2 separate regions of the Homo sapiens genome follow, and region 2 is linked to region 1. The links come from fine-mapping of genetic effects on gene expression. A gene starts in region 1. The other region holds a variant in brackets. All regions are shown on one strand. Distances are from middle to middle.

Region 1 (8,322 bases):
AACCAGGCTGGAGTGCAGTGGTGTGATCTCAGCTCACTGCAACCTCCAACTCCTGGGTTCAAGCGATTCCCCTGCCTCAGCCTCCCGAGTAGCTGGGATTACAGGCGTGCATCACCATGCCCAGCTACCTTTTTGTATTTTAGTAAAGACGAGGTTTCACTGTGTTGGCCAGGCTGGTCTCGATCTCCTGACCTCATGTTCCGCCCATCGTGGCCTCCAGAAGTGCTGGGATTACAGGCGTGAGCCACTGCGCTTAGCTGACAGTTTCTCCAGGGCATCAGAACACAGCGTTAGGAAAGCTGTCTGTGGTGACTCAATGTGACCTGATGACCACAGGACCCCCTGAGTGAGCCAGGGCTGGTGGGCGAAGCAGACATCACTGCAGAGAGCTAGCAGCTTGCTGTGGGGAGAGAATAGGGACGTGGTCTCGGGTCCAGATGTCCTCAGCCACAGTAGCAGCATGAAGGAAGGTGCATTGAGGGGGGACCCAAATGCTCCTCTGCTCCCTGCCTCCCTCACAGGAACTTCCCATAACACAAACAGGAATAACAGTGCCCCTCGTCAGGCGGTTATGGCAATCCAGAGTGGAAAAAGGGTGCTTCGGGCAGGGCGAGGGGGCTTATGCCTGTAATCCCAGTGCTTTGGGAGGCTGAGGTGGGAGGATCGCTTGAGGCCAAGAGTGCACTATGATTGCGCCACGGCACTCCAGCCTGGACAACAGAGCAAGACCTTGTCACTAAAGAAAAAAAAAGAAAGGATGTCTCAAATGTTCTGTCATTCCTTCAACACATATCTGAATGTCTGCTCTGGGCCACTGAAATAATGAGGAAGGTGAATGTAAGGGTGAGTTAGGAAGAAGTAGCAGCACTTAGCCCCGGCTGCATGTGGGGGCTTAGGGAACAGGAAGAATGCAGGCTGGCTCTCCGGCTCCTGGGCTGGGTACCACAAACCACCCGCATCAGGAGTATGAAGCCTTCCTTTCTTAACATAAAGGACTTGGTGTCCAATGCCTAACCTATATCCCTCAGGAAGCAGAGCGGTACCCACCCTACTGCCCAACCCTCCAAGGTGACGGTGACCCTCCTGCACACCCTGGAGAGGGCACGCCTCACTCAGCAGCATGATTTCTTTCACTGTTAACTTCCAAAGACGTTCCTGGACCGAAGAACAATCCTCACCAAAAAAAAGGCAAAGGCAGACACTTCTGAGGCCGTCAAGATACCCAAATAGGGTAGCTGGCCTCAGCCCAGGGCCTGCTGGAGATCCAACCTTCACCTGACATTTGGATGGGGTAAAAGTTGAAATTTACACAAGGTAACAAATATTTGAAGCTAGCAAGCAGAAAAAAGTCCTTACTTGTGTTAAGCAATCAATTTGTTTAAAAAACATATCCTGTACATGTCGTCAAAGAAACTGGTAATAGTGGTGGCATCTGGAGAGGGGAACCAAGTGAGAAGGACTCTACTCTGTATCTGCACCTTTTTAAAAAAAAAAAAAAAAAAACAGAGACAGGGTCTGGCTGTCACCGAGGCTGGAGCGCAGTGGTGCAATCATAGCTCACTGCAGTCTCCACCTCCTGGGCTGAAGCCATCCTCCCACCTCAGCCTCCTGAGTAGCTGGGACCACAGATGCACTCCACCAGGCCCTACTAATTGTTTGTAGAGACAGGGGTCTGGCTCTGTTGCCCAGGTTGGTCTCGAATTCCTGGCCTCAAAGCAATCCTCCCACCTTGGCCTCCCAAAGCATTGAGATTACAGGCGTGAGCCACGGGGCCGGGCCCATCTGTGCCTCTTTAACTTTGCATCGTATGCTTATATCGCTTATTTGTAAAAACAAAACAAAACAAAAGTCTTCACAAGAAAAGCTCAAGACTGGCAGAAGACAAGTGAGGCCTCTTTAAAGTGTGTTGGAGAGATTCTCGAGAGATTCTCTCCAACACACTTTAAACAAACAATCTCGAACAGCCATTTTAATTCTTAAAGCACCAATTCTTCCGGAATTCAAGTTCAGGCTTCCACCAGCAACAGAATTCTGGCCTGCCAATAATAACCATGCAGAGTGACTAAACATTTTTTCCAACAAAGGAAAAAATGCAAACGATCAAAGTGCAGAAGCAGCCCTTGGCCCGCGCAGGCTCCGGTTTCCGCCTCCCGCCGCCGCTGCCACCGCCCCTGCGCCTTTAGATTTCGGGCAGCAAGTTTAATTGCTCGCTTGGAAAGCGTCCTCGGAAGGGCACCGCCAGCAACTGCGGCTTCGCGCCCCGCCCCTTCCCCCAAGCCCCGGGCGGCGTCACGTGACGGCTGAGAAAAGTAGGGGAAAGGTCAGCAGCAGCCCCGCCCCCAGGCTGGCGCGTCCCAGGCGCTCGGATCCTGTTCCACCCGCCGTGCCCACAGAGACCTTCCGGAGCGAGTTGGCGCGCGTCCCTGTGGCCACCCCAGCGACAGCGGGAGAAATGCAACGCACCTCTCCGTGGGAAGGTCGAGCCCTGCGGTGCCCAGCTGTGGGGACAGCTCGGTGCTCAGTGCTTCTGATGACAGATGCTGCATCCAACGAGCCAGAAACGCAGGCACCGCGCTCAAGAGCCCAGGGCGCGTCTAAAAGGGGCTCACTGTGAAGCCTCAGTGAAAACTGACGGTGTTTTTATGAATGAGCACTCGGGGCCAGGGTTGGGTAAGGGCAGGCCCTCGTTCCAGGGCTCCCCGGAGGCCCAACTTGACCGCTCGGTGACCACTGGTCCGGGGCCGGGGCCAAACGCAGCAGCCGCAGCAGTATCGGAAGGGACCCAGTTTAATTCTCTTCCCCTCCAGGGTAGGCGGCTTGTTTTTAGTACCAACTCGAAACGTTATTTTGGCCTGTGCATGATGCCAACTTCTGCCACTTTGAAACAAAGTGTGTGCACTCCCAAACCTGGCCCTTTTTATTGTTTGATTCCAACTGTTAAGATAGGGTTCAAGTGCAAGGTCTAGGCTAGCAATGCTTCACAGGAAGGAAACCAGTAATTTACATGCGAAAAGCAGTCCACAGGCTCTTGGTATTGAGGCAAAACCAATCCAAAGAACCAGCTGCGAATGCTGATAGTCCCCAGACCAACTGACAGCTGGATGTTCGCTGGCCTCAGCGGTGTGCATTCTCAGCGACACTTATGTCCTCAATTTATTGCTACGTTCACTCGGTCAGAGTCGCCTTAAAGAATTTGGAAAGGCCCGGGGGTGGGGGTGCTTCCTGGCATAAATAGAAGACCAGTGCTCAGCCATTTTTTATTCACTTGGTTTGTGGCTTAGAATGAAATAAACATGCTTGCATATCTGGAATGACCAGAAACCGGACACCTGTGGAAGAAAATGGTGTAACAAAATACAACGTTGCAAAAGGTAAAACCGATTTTCATTTTATTCGGTAACTTACAAAGTTACCAGCTTCCTACTAAAATCTGCCCTTAAATATTTTATAACACACGGAGCCGAGAGGAACCGAAAGCCTGTGCCGAGTTGGGAATATTAACTTTGTTATGTATTTAACCTGGTAGGTAGTTGGGATTTTTAACTCTCTGAGTTGTTTTCTTTTTTTAAAGTAAGATCGGCCCTCATCTTTGAGTTCTGCGGCTTTAACGAAAGCCAAGGGCGGATTTACATTATAAAGACGCTGACCCATGGCCTCTCCTGACAAACCGAAAGAAGCCGGCTGTTGGCTGGCCGCGGCGGTGGCTCCGAGAAGGGGCTGCCCCGCGTGGCCCTGACCGCACCGTCGGGCTCGCAGGCCAAGTTCGCCAGGGCACGGCCACGTGACACCCCCACCCTCCCGCGGCCCCGCCGCTCCCAGCCCGGCACGACCTTGGGCACATGCTCCGCGCCCACCCGCCCTTGACCCAGCGCTGCACGGGAGAGGCTGCGGGGCGCTCCCAAGCAGGCACTGGGCCCGGCACCCTCATCCTGCTCACGGCAGCGCTCGGACCGCGCCTGGAGTCCCTGCGCCAAGGGCGTGTCCCGACGGCTGCACCGCGAGGGCGGGCATGGGGAGGGGGACCGGGGAGACGGACGCTGGGATGGGGTCAGCGGCGCCCTGCCGAATCCCGAGGGCCGAGCACCCCTCCCTCAGCCGCACTGCACCTGCCCGTAGGTGACCAACCCACGGGCGGACCCCCAGACCCAATCCTCTCCAGAGCCAGGGTGGGATGGGCAGGGACAGGAGCCGGAGGCCCTACTGGCCCCGGGCGAAGGCATCCTGGAAAGCATCCAGAGCGTCCAGCATCCCTCCCGCGGCCACCCGCAGGCTGACCGACCCCTGGGCAGACCCTCAGACTCAATCCAGTCCAGGGCGGATTAAGGAGTGGGAGACAAGGGAGCCGGTGGCCCCGCTGGCCCCGGGCCGGAGGCGTCCAGCCAAGTCCGGAGGGCCGAGCATCCCTCCCGCGGCCGCACGGGACCCGCCTGCGGATGGACCGACCCCCGGTGGACCCTCAGACCCAATCCCCTGGGGAACATGGGGAGCCCCGGCCTCTTTCTGGGTTCAGGATCTCCACAACCCCGCCGTCCGGGGGGAATACCGGGGTTCCTCTCGGCGCCCCGGTTCCGGCGGCGTCCCCCACCCGGTCCGGTTCCCGGCAGCCCCGCGCCCCGCCCGTCCCCGGCCCCCGCAGCCCGCAGGGCCGCCCCGCCACCCTCCCCACCGCGGGCGACCGGGCCTCACCGAGTCAGCTACGGAGGTGCGGCAGCGGCAGCGGCAGCGGCGGCGGCGGCGGCGGCGGTGGAGTGAACGAGCGGCGAGCGGGAGCCGGGGAAGGAGGGCCGCGGGCGAGGCCGAGCGCACCCGACGCCGGCAGCAGCGGATTGGCTGAGGCGGGTCCGGCTGCGGCGCCTGCAGGCGGGTGACTCCCGGCGCGCGGAGGGCGGGCCCGGGGCCTCGGCGGGGCGGGGCGTCCGCGGGGCTAGGAGGGGAGGGAAACTGAGGCTCGAGCGGGTGCTCGCGTCCTCGACCTCTGCCGGAATGGGGTCTAGGACGAGATTCCTCACCCTCCGAGCCTCAGTTTCCTCATCCGTAAAACGAGCCATCTCGTGGAGGCCGTGCGCATAAAATCGCTTAGCTCCGTGCCTGGCTGATCCTCGCGACTTATCTATCGGCATTGCCCCGTGTAATGCTCCAGGCACCCCCTGATGGTATTCACCCCTGACTCTTTCATGCAGACAAGGGTCGCGGGCCAGGAAATAAGTTACCCCACATCACCGAGCTGAGAAGCAACCGATCCACAGGGAGTGGTGGGGCGCGCCTGTAATCCCAGCTACTCGGGAGGCGGGAAGTCGCTTGAAGCCAGGAGTTCGAGGCCAGCCTGGGCAACGTAGCGAGACCCCGTCTCTAAAAAAAAAAGCGCGGGGAAGTGATAGATCGGACATTGGGTCCAGATCTGATTCCACAGCCCATGCCCCAAATCAGACCTTATACCACGAGTGGCAGTCATCGCGATCCAGAGGCAGCGTGGCTCCTCCTCATCTAGCTAGGATAAAAATGCCTCACTTGGGGGGCTTTGGTGAGATTTACTAAAATAATTCTTCCAGCGTCAAGAACATAATAGGTGCTGGGAGAGGAGTAGCTGGAGGCCAGGGCAGAGCGACCGAGAGACCCTTGTGCTGGAGCTCGGGAGAGGGGCCGGGAGCGGGAACTGAACATCCACCGGTCCCAGGAGTCTAGGGCGAGCGCAGCTGCAGGGGACCCAGGGGGTTGAGGGGGAGGGAGAGGGGCCCCAAGCGTAACAGGAGGGCCAAGGGGGTCTTCCTGACCGGGAGCCACCCCTCCCCTATCTTTGCCCGCAATGCTTCCAGGCGCGAGCTGGCGGCTCTGCATACAGCAGGTGCTCCATAAATGCACCGATGTTATGAACAAAGACTCTTTTAAACCTCTTTTATGAACCCTGCTCTTTTTAAGTTCGACCACTTCTTCTAGTTATGAAAAAATCCATGTTTGCAACCATCCTTCTTTCTGTATCATTTAGTTGTTACCGCAGAAGAATTTAGAAGAGAAAATGAAAGTTCTCCTTTGATCCCGCCCCCCACCACCGCTGCAGTTAACTCTCCCTGCGGTTCCCGGGCTCGCTGTTTTAAAGGAAGGCTAGGATGCAAGCTGTCTGTAAGGCTGTTTTGTTTTCACTTGGCTTACGTCGTAGACAGGTCTCTGCTGGGGGACGGAGATGACCACCGGCCTTCCCAAGGCTGCATAAGATTTCCTTTGACTATGCTGTGATCCATTTACGCGGCCCCCATTGGACAATTAGGGCCTCCTCCCCGCCCCCCACCCCACCATTGCAGGTATAAATAAAAGCTGCGTTGGCCGTCGATGTACCTCCTGGAGCTCCTGATTATCCTGTAGGATAGATCCCTGGAGGGGAAGCAACCAGGCACGTGCGACATTTTGGTGACACAGGCCAAGCTACCATGCCGAAAAGTTTACCAACTTCCACTGCCACCCGCGCGTGCAAGCGGGGCCCTGTCTCCGATTATGGATTATTTTAATCTTTGCCAATCCTAAAAGGAGGGGTGGGGGAGGGAAGAATCTCTCATCTCTCCTTTTAATTTGCATTTCTTTGAGGTTAGAAGTTGGGGGTTTGTCCCCCTGCTTGCGCTTGTCTGGACCACCAGTGAGCCCAGGCACTCGACCCCCGCAGATTTCACCGCCCCAAGAGGCCAGTGGGCTGGGCCAGGGCACACGTTCCTGACGCGCGGCTGCACCCCACGAGCCCGGGCGGCTCTCGCGCGTGAGGCTCTCCTTGCACGTGGGCCTTCGCGGTTTGCACTACGGAAGCTGGACTGTCATTCTCACCGCAAATGCCCTTCCCTCCTTTCCCTGGAACCTCAGCCACCGACAGGTCCCCGCTCCAAGGTCATTTCCTCCCTCGCTCAGCGCCCCGGTGCGCGCCCAGCTGGGATTGGCCCCGCGCCCTGTCTGTTCCCAGGGCTCTTCGGCCTTGACCGTGCGCCCTTCCCTGCGCGCCGCCTAGGTGCCACCTGCAGGCCGGGCGGGGCAGGGACAGGGACCCAGTCTGTGGGGACGCCGAGGCGCCACGCTCACCTGTGCCATGGTGGCCGGGCTCTCGGCAGCTGCAACGAGCCCGCGCCGGCCTGCAACTGCAGCCGCACTGGGGAGGCCTTATTCCCCTCCCGCCGACCACGCTGCAGCTCTCCTGCCCGGGTCTGCGGCTCCCGCGGCTGCGTAGCTGAGTCTATTAATAAAGAAGCAGAGAACGAGGCCTCCCGGGGAGCTCCGGGCCTGAGCCTCAGTTCCCTGGGGCCAAAAACGTCTCCATGTCTGCCTCTGAAACTAGAGTAATCTTTCTCAAGCCTTGTTTTTTACAGATTCTGCCCCAGTTTGAATACTGTAGCAATTGCCTACCATAGCTACAAGAAAAATTTTCTTTTTAATGCAGGTAATGTTTTTATTTACCGCTAAGATTTCTCTTTTTACTCAAAAAATACTTTTTTATGGAAAAATCCAAACCTTTTTATTCATTCGTTCATTCATTCATTCATTTTTGAAACAGGATCTCTCTCTGTTGCCCATGCTGCAGGGCAGTAGCAAAATGACAGCTCACTGCAGTGTTGACATCCTAGGCTCAAGCAATCCTCCTACCCCAGCTTCCTGAGTAGCTGGGACCACAGGCAAGTCCCGCCATGCCTGGCTAATATTTTGAAAAATCCAAACCTTTGAAAAAAATTAACCAGAATAGTATAATAAAGGCCTATACAACCAAAACTCAACATCAACCATTATGGAGCTAGGGCCAAGGTGTATGCCTGTGTTCCTACCCACTCCTGCCCAGTCCTACTGTTTATTTTAAAGCAAATTCAGAAATCCTACCGTTATGTCCACAAATTCCTTTTTTTTTTTTTGACATGGAGTCTTGCTCTGTCCCCCAGGTTGGAGTGCAGTGGCGCAATCTCACCTCACTGCAACCTCTGCCTCCAGGGCTCAAGCGATTCTCATACCTCAGCCTCCCGAGTAGCTGAGATTACAGACGTGCATCACCATGCTCGGTAATTTTTGTATTTTTAGTAGAGACAGGGTTTCACCATGTTGGGCCAGGCTAGTCTCCAACTCCTGATCTCTGGTGATCCATCTGCCTCAGCCTCCCAAAGTGCTGGGATTACGGGTGTGAGCCACTGCGCCCAGCCCTCAAATTCTCGAGTACAAACCTCTAAAAGATAAATATTCTTAACTAAAAAATATGACCATACTATCATTGTCCCACCTAAAATAGATGAACAATTGTTACAGAAAATGGTAAACCCTGTTGCCTGCCAAGAGCACAGCTGAGTCCCCACTCGATCTCGCCAGCCT
Region 2 (8,322 bases), 87 kb before region 1:
GTCCTCCTCGTACTTCACGGGGGCCTTCAGGCCGATGTTCTCCGAAGCGAACGGACCCTCGGGGCTTAAGAGCTCCGTCACCATCGCATCCTCGGGGCTGGGCAGCCCGCCCGGCAGAGGGCCCTCCTCCATGGCGCAGGGCGGCGGGGCGGGATGGCGGGGGCCGCGCACCTGCAACACGCGGCCAGGTGAGAGGCAGCCAGAGGAGAGGACGAGGGGAGGGGCGGCCAGGAAAGGGGACAGCCAAGGGAGGGGCAGCCAAGGGAGGGGCGGCCAGGGGAGGGGACCAGGTGAGGGGCGGCTAGGGGAGGGGGCGGCCTGGTGAGGGAGGGCCAGGTGAGGGGCCCGGGGAAGGGCGACCAGGTGAGGGGGTCAGGGGAGGGGCGACCAGATGAGGGGCGATTAGGTGAGGGGCGGCCAGGTGAGGGGCGGCCAGGTGAGGAGCGACCAGGGGAGGCGGTCAGGTGAGCGGCGACCAGGGGAGGGGCGGCCGGGGAGGGGGTCACGGGAGGGGCGACCAGGGGAGGGGCGGCCAGGGGAGGGGGCCAGGTGAGGGGCGGCCAGGTGAGGAGCGACCAGGGGAGGGAGTCAGGGGAGGGGCGACCAGGTAAGGGGCGGCCAGGAGAGGGGCCGGCCGGGGTGGGGGTCAGGTGAGGGGCGCCCAGGGGAGGGGGCCAGGTGAGGGGCGGCCGAGGAGGGGGTCAGGTGAGGAGCAGCCAGGGGAGGGGGGGCCAGGTGAGGTGCGACCAGGTGAGGGGCGGCCTCGCCCACGGCCCGCCGCCCTCCGCCCACCCGCAGGGGCCCGACCCGGCCCGGCAGCCCCCATCCCCGCCTGCAGAGCCGAGGCCCAGCCCGGGGACCGCCCCGTCATTCCTCCTCGGAGGGACGCACCTGGGGCCGCCGGGGCTGCCGCAGCGTGGAGCGAGCGGGATGGGGCGTGGGCCGGGCCTCAGGCGCAGGCGGCCGTTGGCGGTTGGAGAAGGGGGAAGGGTGAGGGACAGGAACCTGGGGGGAGGGGAAGAGGCGCCCGGGCAGTGGGCGGGGCCTGGGCGTGGGGCGGAGTCGAGGTCGGGGCGGGGAGGTAAAGGCGGGGCCAGGGAGGTGTGGTGGGCGTGGTCTGGGGCGGGAGGAGACAGAGTCGCGAGGGGCGGGGCCTGGACTGCCGCTGTTGCCAGAGCGGGTCAGGGGAGGCACTCCCAGGTTCAGCCGATCCAGGCTCAGGTGGGGAAACTGAGGTCCCCATCAACTCGGGCAGCGCTAAGTGGGACTGCCTAGCTTGGCTTCTGACCTTGGGCTTCAGTTATATTTTTCTGGCCAGGCGTGGTTGCTCACGCCTGTAGTCCCAGCACTTTGGGAGGCCGAGGCAGGCGGATTACTTGAGGTCAGGAGTTCAAAACCAGCCTGGGCAACATGGTGAAACCCCGTCTCTACTAAAAATACAAAAATTAGCTGGCCGTGGTGGCACGCGCCTGTAATCCCAGCTACTTGGAAGGCTGAGGCAGGAGAATCGCTTGAGCCCGGGAGGTGGAGGTTGCAGTGAGCCGAGATCCCGCCACTGCACTCCAGCCTGTGCCACAGAGCTAGACTCCGTCTCAAAAAAATAAATAAAATAAAATAAAACATTTTTCTACACTCGAGCTCTCAAGACAGATCCCGGCCTGGGACGCTGCGGGTGGACAGAGGGCAGGGGCTTGCACCGCACGTTCCCAGCCTTGCACCCACTCCCGGTCCTTGGTGACGCAGCTTACAGGTGCAACTGATGGAGTTGGTCCCGAAATAGAAGTAACAAATACGGCTGGGCGTGGTGGCTCACGTCTGTAATCCCAGCACTTTGGGAGGCCGAGGCGGGTGGATCACCTGAGGTCAGGAGTTCGAGACCAGCCTGGCCAACATATAGTGAAACTCCGTCTCTACTAAAAAATACAAAAACTAGCTGGGCGTAGTGGCGCACGCCTGTAGTCCCAGCTACATAGAAGGCTGAGGCTTGAACCTGGGAGATGGGGGTTGCAGTGAGCTGAGATTGTGTCACTGTACTCCAGCCTGACCAACAGAGAAAGGCTCCCTCTCAGAAAAAAAAAAAAAAACTCACAAATACAATGAAAGTCTCAAATTTTGGGTGGGGAATGAGCTATTTCATCTTTAAGGAGTCAATAGATATCACTGTTTAATCAAGAGGAGGTGAAAGTTTAATTCAAGTGATGGCGAAAACTGCAAAGGGTGTAGAGGGACTGGTGGGAGTGGGTGCTGGGGAGACAGCCTCAGGTACTGTCTACTCAGGTACTGTTTTGGTAAAAATAAAGAATGTAAAACATCAGCTTTCTAATCTCACTTTTAAAAATTAAATACTTTTCTAAATTTTTAAAGGGTAGTACCCAAGGCACAGCAACACCGTGTACTATTTAGTTGTACATTTAACATTCAAAAATCAAGAAAATTTTGCCTGGGGCTGGGCGTGGTGGCTCATGCCTGTAATCCCAGCACTCTGGGAGGCCAAGGTGGTCAGATCACTTAAAGTCAGGAGTTCAAGACCAGCCTGACTAACATGGTGAAACCCTGTCTCTACTAAAAATACAAAATTAGCTAGGCATGGTGGTGCACACCTGCAATCCCAGCTATTTGTGAGGCTGAGGCAGGAGAATTGCTTGAACCTGGGAGGCGGAGGTTGCAGTGAGCTGAGATTGCACCATTGTACTTTAGCCTGGGCAAAAAGATTGAAACTCCATCTCAAAAATCAAACAAACAAAAACAACAACAACAAAAAACACTCACAGAAGCAGAAAAAATAATAAAAATAATAAATCGAAGAGCCCAAGAATTATGCATAGCTTGAGTGGCCCAAGCGAGAGAGTAACCCACAAGGTTGCACCGTTCATTCGTTTACTAATCAGAATCAGACGTCTACTGAGTAGCATCATGCCAGGCATACACAGCCACCTGTGGGGGTCACCCACGGGTTGCAATCAAGCCTGGAGGCTCTGCACCTGCTGCTCCTAGATGCTTGCTGCCCTGCTGCACTGGCCGGGCTGGCTCCGTCGAGTCTCTCAGGTCTCAGCTCAACCCACTCTAAGTGGGTCAACCTCCCTGCCAGCTACCACCCCCTCCCAATGATCCTCTTAGTTGCCTCAGAACACTTAAAATCCTTCAACTGGTTGGCTTGTTCTCTTTTTCCTCTGTGATATGGTTTGGCTCTGTGTCCCCACCCAAATCTCATCTTGAATTGTAATCCCTCTGTGTCAAGGGAGGGGCCTGGTGGGAGGTGATTGGATCAAGGAGGCGGTTCCCCTACGCTGTTCTTGCAATAAGAAGTGAGTTCTCACAAGATCTGATGGCTTAAAAGTGTTCGGCAATTCCCCCTCACTCTCTCTCCTCTGCTGCCATGTAACAGGTTTCTTGCTTCCCCTTCACCTTCTGCCATGATTATAAGTTTCCTGAGGCCTCCCCAGCCATGCTGAACTGTGAGTCAATTGACTGTCTTTCCTTTATACTTACCCAGTCTCAAGAAGTTCTTTACAGCAATGTAAAAATGGACTAATGAGACAGCCAGAACCTGGTGGGGTCACTGCTGTCTCCCCAGTGCCTAGAACAGGCGCTGATATGGTTTGGATGTGTGTCCCCACCCAAATCTCAGGTTCAGTGGTAATCCCTAATGTTGGAGGTGGGGCCTGATGGGAAGTGACTGGATCATGGGCGTGCATTTCTCATGAACAGCACCATCCCTCTTGCTACTGTCCTCACCATAGAGTGCGTGAGTTCCTGTGAGATCTGGTTGTTCGCAAGTGTGTAAGAGAGCACCTCCTCTCTCTCTCTCAGATCTGGTTGTTTGCAAATGTGTAAGAGAGCACCTCCTCTCTTTCTCTCTCTGTCTCCTTTCACCATGTAGAATGCCTGCTCCCCCTTTGCCTTCCACCATGAGTAAAAAGCTGTTTGAGGCCTCCCCAGAAGCAGATGCCTCCATGCTTCCTGTATAGCCTGCAGAACTGAGAGCCAATTAAACCTCTTATAAATTACCCAGTCTCAGCTATTTCTTTACAGCAATGTGAGAATGGCCTAATACAGGTGCTCAAGAAAAACAGAAAAATGGAATTCATGCATTACTTTTAACATATTTATTGAGCATCTTTTATGTGTCAGGCACTGTTCTCAGCATTGAGGCAATGGAATGGATGAATAAATGCACAGCAAGTGAAAATCAACAGGCTTTTCTTTCCAGCCCAGCACA[T/C]GAACTTGGTGATGTCCATGGTCTCCTCCAAGGCCTTGTTTCCATATGCTGAGACTTTCCACTTTGTCTCAAGTATCTGAACTTGGTCCTTGACTTATAATCCCCTTAATATAACAAAAGAGACAGAAACAAATCTTGTAGTAGACTGGGGTTAATGTTTTATTAATGATAACCTACATTCACACTGCATTTCTAAGATTTACATCCAAAGAGCATACTGTATTTACATGCACCGGTCAGCCCAAGATAACAAATTCAAACCATGGCTGCGTTAAGACAATGGTTTGTTCCAATTAAATTAAACAGATAATACTCTTATCACCCCCCTTGGACATGTACAATAAGACCCCTCTTTCTCCCCTCAAGGAATATAAAATTGCATTGATAACTGCACTGATGAGCAACAATTACATTTGAAACATTTAAAACCTGAGAGAGAAACCCAAATATGTTTAAGCACTCACGTCTACACTCAAAATGCCCTGTGAACTCTAGTGTAACACAGATTGCTCAGTGGTCAACAGTGCATGATCTAGCTGGCTCTGATAGGGACTGACGCCGGCTGCTGGCTTTTAACGGGAAGTGCTATTCTTGCCCAGGGCAGAGAGAGCTACATCCCCGCTGCCTGCTTGACGGACAGTCAGGGGCTTTTGTTGTTGGTTTGTTTTTGCTTTTTTTTTTAGACGGAGTCTCGCTCTGTCGCCCAGGCTGGAGTGCAGTGGAGCGATCTCGGCTCACTGCAAGCTCCGCCTCCCGGGTTCACGCCATTCTCCTGCCTCAGCCTCCTGAGTAGCTGGGACTACAGGCGCCCGCCACCACGCCCGGCTCATTTTTTGAATTTTTAGTAGAGACGGGGTTTCACCGTGTTAGCCAGGATGGTCTCCATCTCCTGACCTCGTGATCCGCCCGCCTTGGCCTCCCAAAGTGCTGGGATTACACGCATGAGCCACCGCGCCTGGACGCTTTTTTTTTTTTTTTTGTCTTTTGTTTTCATTTTTTCTTGCTTTCAGGAGAAAAAAAATCTTTGGCCCATAAAGGTGGGATTTTTACATCATGAAGTATACATACATAAAACATGCATGTGGGCCGCGCATGGTGGCTCATGCCTGTAATCCCAGCACTTTGGGAGGCTGAGGCAGGTGGATCACCTGAGGTCAGGAGTTCGAGACCAGCCTGACCAATATGATGAAACCCCGTCTCTACTAAAAATACAAAAATTAGCAGGGCATGGTGTTGGGCGTGTAATCCCAGCTACTTGGGAGGCTGAGACAGGAGAATCGCTTGAACCTGCAAGGCAGATGCTGCAGTGAGCCGAGATTGCACCACTGCACTCCAGCCTGGGCAACAAGAGTGAAACTCCATCTCAAAAAAAAAAAAAAAAAAAAAGGCACGTGTTCTCCGGCAAGCACCTTCCATCGACTCCAACAGTTCAGCCATCGCTGTTGTACTATCGGGGTGCAGCACTCTGAAGGAGTCAGGCCCAACTAGAACCAAGTGGTCAAAAAAATAAATACACAATTTAAAACAATGGACAGCTAAGCTTGTCATGACAGACAGTGGGAATTTCATTCCATGATGCTTCATTTTTGCATTAAATACTGAAGATGACTCAGTGCATAATTGCTTTGTGGTCCATGAGACGCTTTCGTGAAGGCACTCCTATCTGAAGGACAGGCTGGGTGAACACCTAGCACTGTCACTTGAGACATCTTGGCTGGTCACCAAGGTGAGCCGGCATACTGTCTCCATCACCCTCTGGTGAGTCTTTCCCCTCACCGGGTGGGAGGAGAAGGCCATCCCTTGGGGTCGTGGAGCCACTCTCTCCTCACCACGGTGGGCTGCCCTCCCCTTCCTCACTTGCTAGTCCCCGCTTGGTGGCCGATGCCCTGCCCTCCTTGCTGTCACTTTGGGAAAGAGATCCTCCTGAGGCACGTGTCATGTTTTATTCTTGAGTGAATTATCTGACCATCACGGCCCTTGCTCCCCTTTTATGACATGTGCCTGTTATTTCTTTTGTTGCTTATGATGACAAGAAGGCAGTCCCGGGAGGGGAGTCTGGCACAGCTGCCCTTGGGAAGGAACTGGTGTTTCTGAGGGGGAGGGGGCTGGTGGGGTGTAGCAAATGCTTATGTACGGTTATCCATACTCAGTCAATTGTGAAGGGAACAGTATACCCACAATTCCACCCAAAGACTCTACAAAATAAATCTTTCTCTCCATCTCCCTTACATTTAGGGCCTTTCATTTTTAAGGCACTGGGTTGTGAAGACTTGAAGACATACAAGGTCAGTAAAACTGAAGACCTTGCATCCTGCTTGCTTCAAATGTGGAGAGGCAAACACAGGCTACTGGACCAGACGGGAACGGTTACCCACGGTGACAAAAGCAGGTCTCCAAAGCACAGCATTTTGGTTAGTGCATTCCAGATGTGTTAGCTACAACTGGGGACACCAACTTGAATAACACATTTTTCTTTTAACAAAACAAAAGTTTACCCTGCTTGGATGATGCTAAATGCCCTTAAGCACTAGGCCTTCGGTTGCCACTGAGAAAGCACACCATTTCCATTCCACTGTGTGTGAAGCCACAACCCTACTAATTCCTTCATTAACTCAACAAGATTTGCATCCCTTAATAAATCCAAGCCGATGCGGAGACATCAGGGGAGACTTTATCAGATGTCCCCCAAGGGAGGGCAAGTCTGGAAGTAGTGGGGTTATGCTTCACAGGGGAGAGATACTGTTCTAGGAAAAAAAAACACCCACATTTTCTGGAAGGAAAACTGAGTTTTTTTAAGAGCAGTGTTTCATCCCGAGCTAAGGTCAGGATTAATGCCTATTTTTCATTTGGTTTGCATCAGAAGAGCTCGTTTTCCTTCCCAGCAGCTCCAGTGGAATTACTTTTTGGAATTAGAACTGAGACCAAACAAAGTGATGATGTCAGTCATTGCTTCTTTCAGGTGCCTTCCAAAGCGATGAGAATCCTTTCATGTAAAAACAAAAACCAAAAACCTATTAAAACGTGGCCATCCCCACATTTCAAGCTTTTTCATTTGCAATCTGACCCAATGTTTCATTGAAATTCCTTTCTGCCAGTTCTCTAAGATCTGACCAACGTCTTAAAGCTTAACTTAGACATTCCAGAGAAATGCTGAGGGTAAAGAGATGACAGCTGATGTGTTTGTGCGGGTGTGTTGTCGATCTAAGCCTTCCCCTAATGCCAATGCGTTTATCCCACGGAAAACACAATGACCATCCTGAGCATGGTGGCTCATGCCTGTAATCCCAGCACTTTGGAATCGCTTGAGCCCAGGAGTTCAAGACCAGCCTGGGAAACATGGTGAAACCACATTTCTACAAAAAATACAAAAATCAGCCAGGTGTGGTGGCACTCCCCTATAGTCCCAGCTACTCAGGAGGCTGAAGTAGGAGGATCCCCTGAGCCCAGGAGGCTGAAGCTGCAGTGAGCCGAGATCACACCACTGCACTCTAGCCTGGGTGGCAGAGTGAGACCCTGTCTAAAACAAACAAACAAACAAACAACAAAAGAAAACCGCAGTGAACAAATAAACCCCAACTTCCTCTGTTAACAGCGACAGTGGCATGGGTTGCCAGGCTATGTACGACAAGGAAAGCAGAATATAAATAAGGGCAATGTGCCATGCTAGGGAGGAGGTCCCTTGTTCCATCCACAGAGGAAGCCGGGGGTCCCCTGCTCTGTATGCAGATTTCTTAGTGTGTACCCATTATTTTTAGTTCATCTTCCAAGTGCTAAAGAGTCTGAAAGTTACAGCAGCACTCCAACGTTAAGCTTCAAAACCATTGCTGCCAACAGAGGTAAACATGTTAAACCAAATTAGATACATTTCCTTTTTTTTTTTTTTTTTTCTGAGACGGAGTCTCACTCCATCACCCAGGCTGGAGTGCAGTGGCATGATCCTGGCTCACTACAACCTCCACCTCCCGGGTTCAAGCGATTCTCCTACCTCAGCCTCCTGAGTAGCTGGGATTACAGGCGTGTGCCACCACACCAGCTAAGTTTTGTATTTTTAGTAGAGGCGGGGTTTCACCATGTTGGCCAGGATGGTTTCAAACTCCTCACCT

Which allele goes with the higher level. Positions count from the first base shown, and alleles are read on the strand shown. Sizes are in standard deviations (SD) of each study's normalised expression.
For the expression in monocytes of the gene that starts at base 4,828 in region 1, C is the high allele of the variant in region 2 and T is the other (large effect, 1.4 SD a copy in Fairfax 2014).

What was found.
Region 2: its variant is fine-mapped to the expression of CPT1A in monocytes (CEDAR, PIP 0.95). The same link has a PIP of 0.9 or more in NK cells, monocytes after LPS and monocytes after interferon gamma.

What each region holds. Positions count from the first base shown.
Region 1 is chr11:68,837,089-68,845,410 of GRCh38, forward strand. CPT1A (carnitine palmitoyltransferase 1A) reads right to left here and starts at 4,828. Exons shown (of 19, transcript NM_001876.4): 1 at 4,687-4,828. RefSeq lists silencers at 1,534-1,613, 3,667-3,946, 3,997-4,096, 4,357-4,436, 4,647-4,696 and 1 more and enhancers at 2,854-3,013, 5,222-5,747, 6,470-6,609, 6,650-6,859.
Region 2 is chr11:68,750,529-68,758,850 of GRCh38, forward strand. TESMIN (testis expressed metallothionein like protein) reads right to left here and starts at 992. Exons shown (of 10, transcript NM_004923.3): 1 at 892-992; 2 at 1-171. The coding sequence starts at 132. It overlaps CPT1A (carnitine palmitoyltransferase 1A), which reads right to left. Exons shown (of 19, transcript NM_001876.4): 19 at 4,355-7,202. The coding sequence ends at 7,116. RefSeq lists an enhancer at 119-1,104 and silencers at 805-1,094, 1,105-1,224. The variant T/C (reference allele first, on the strand shown) is at 4,220.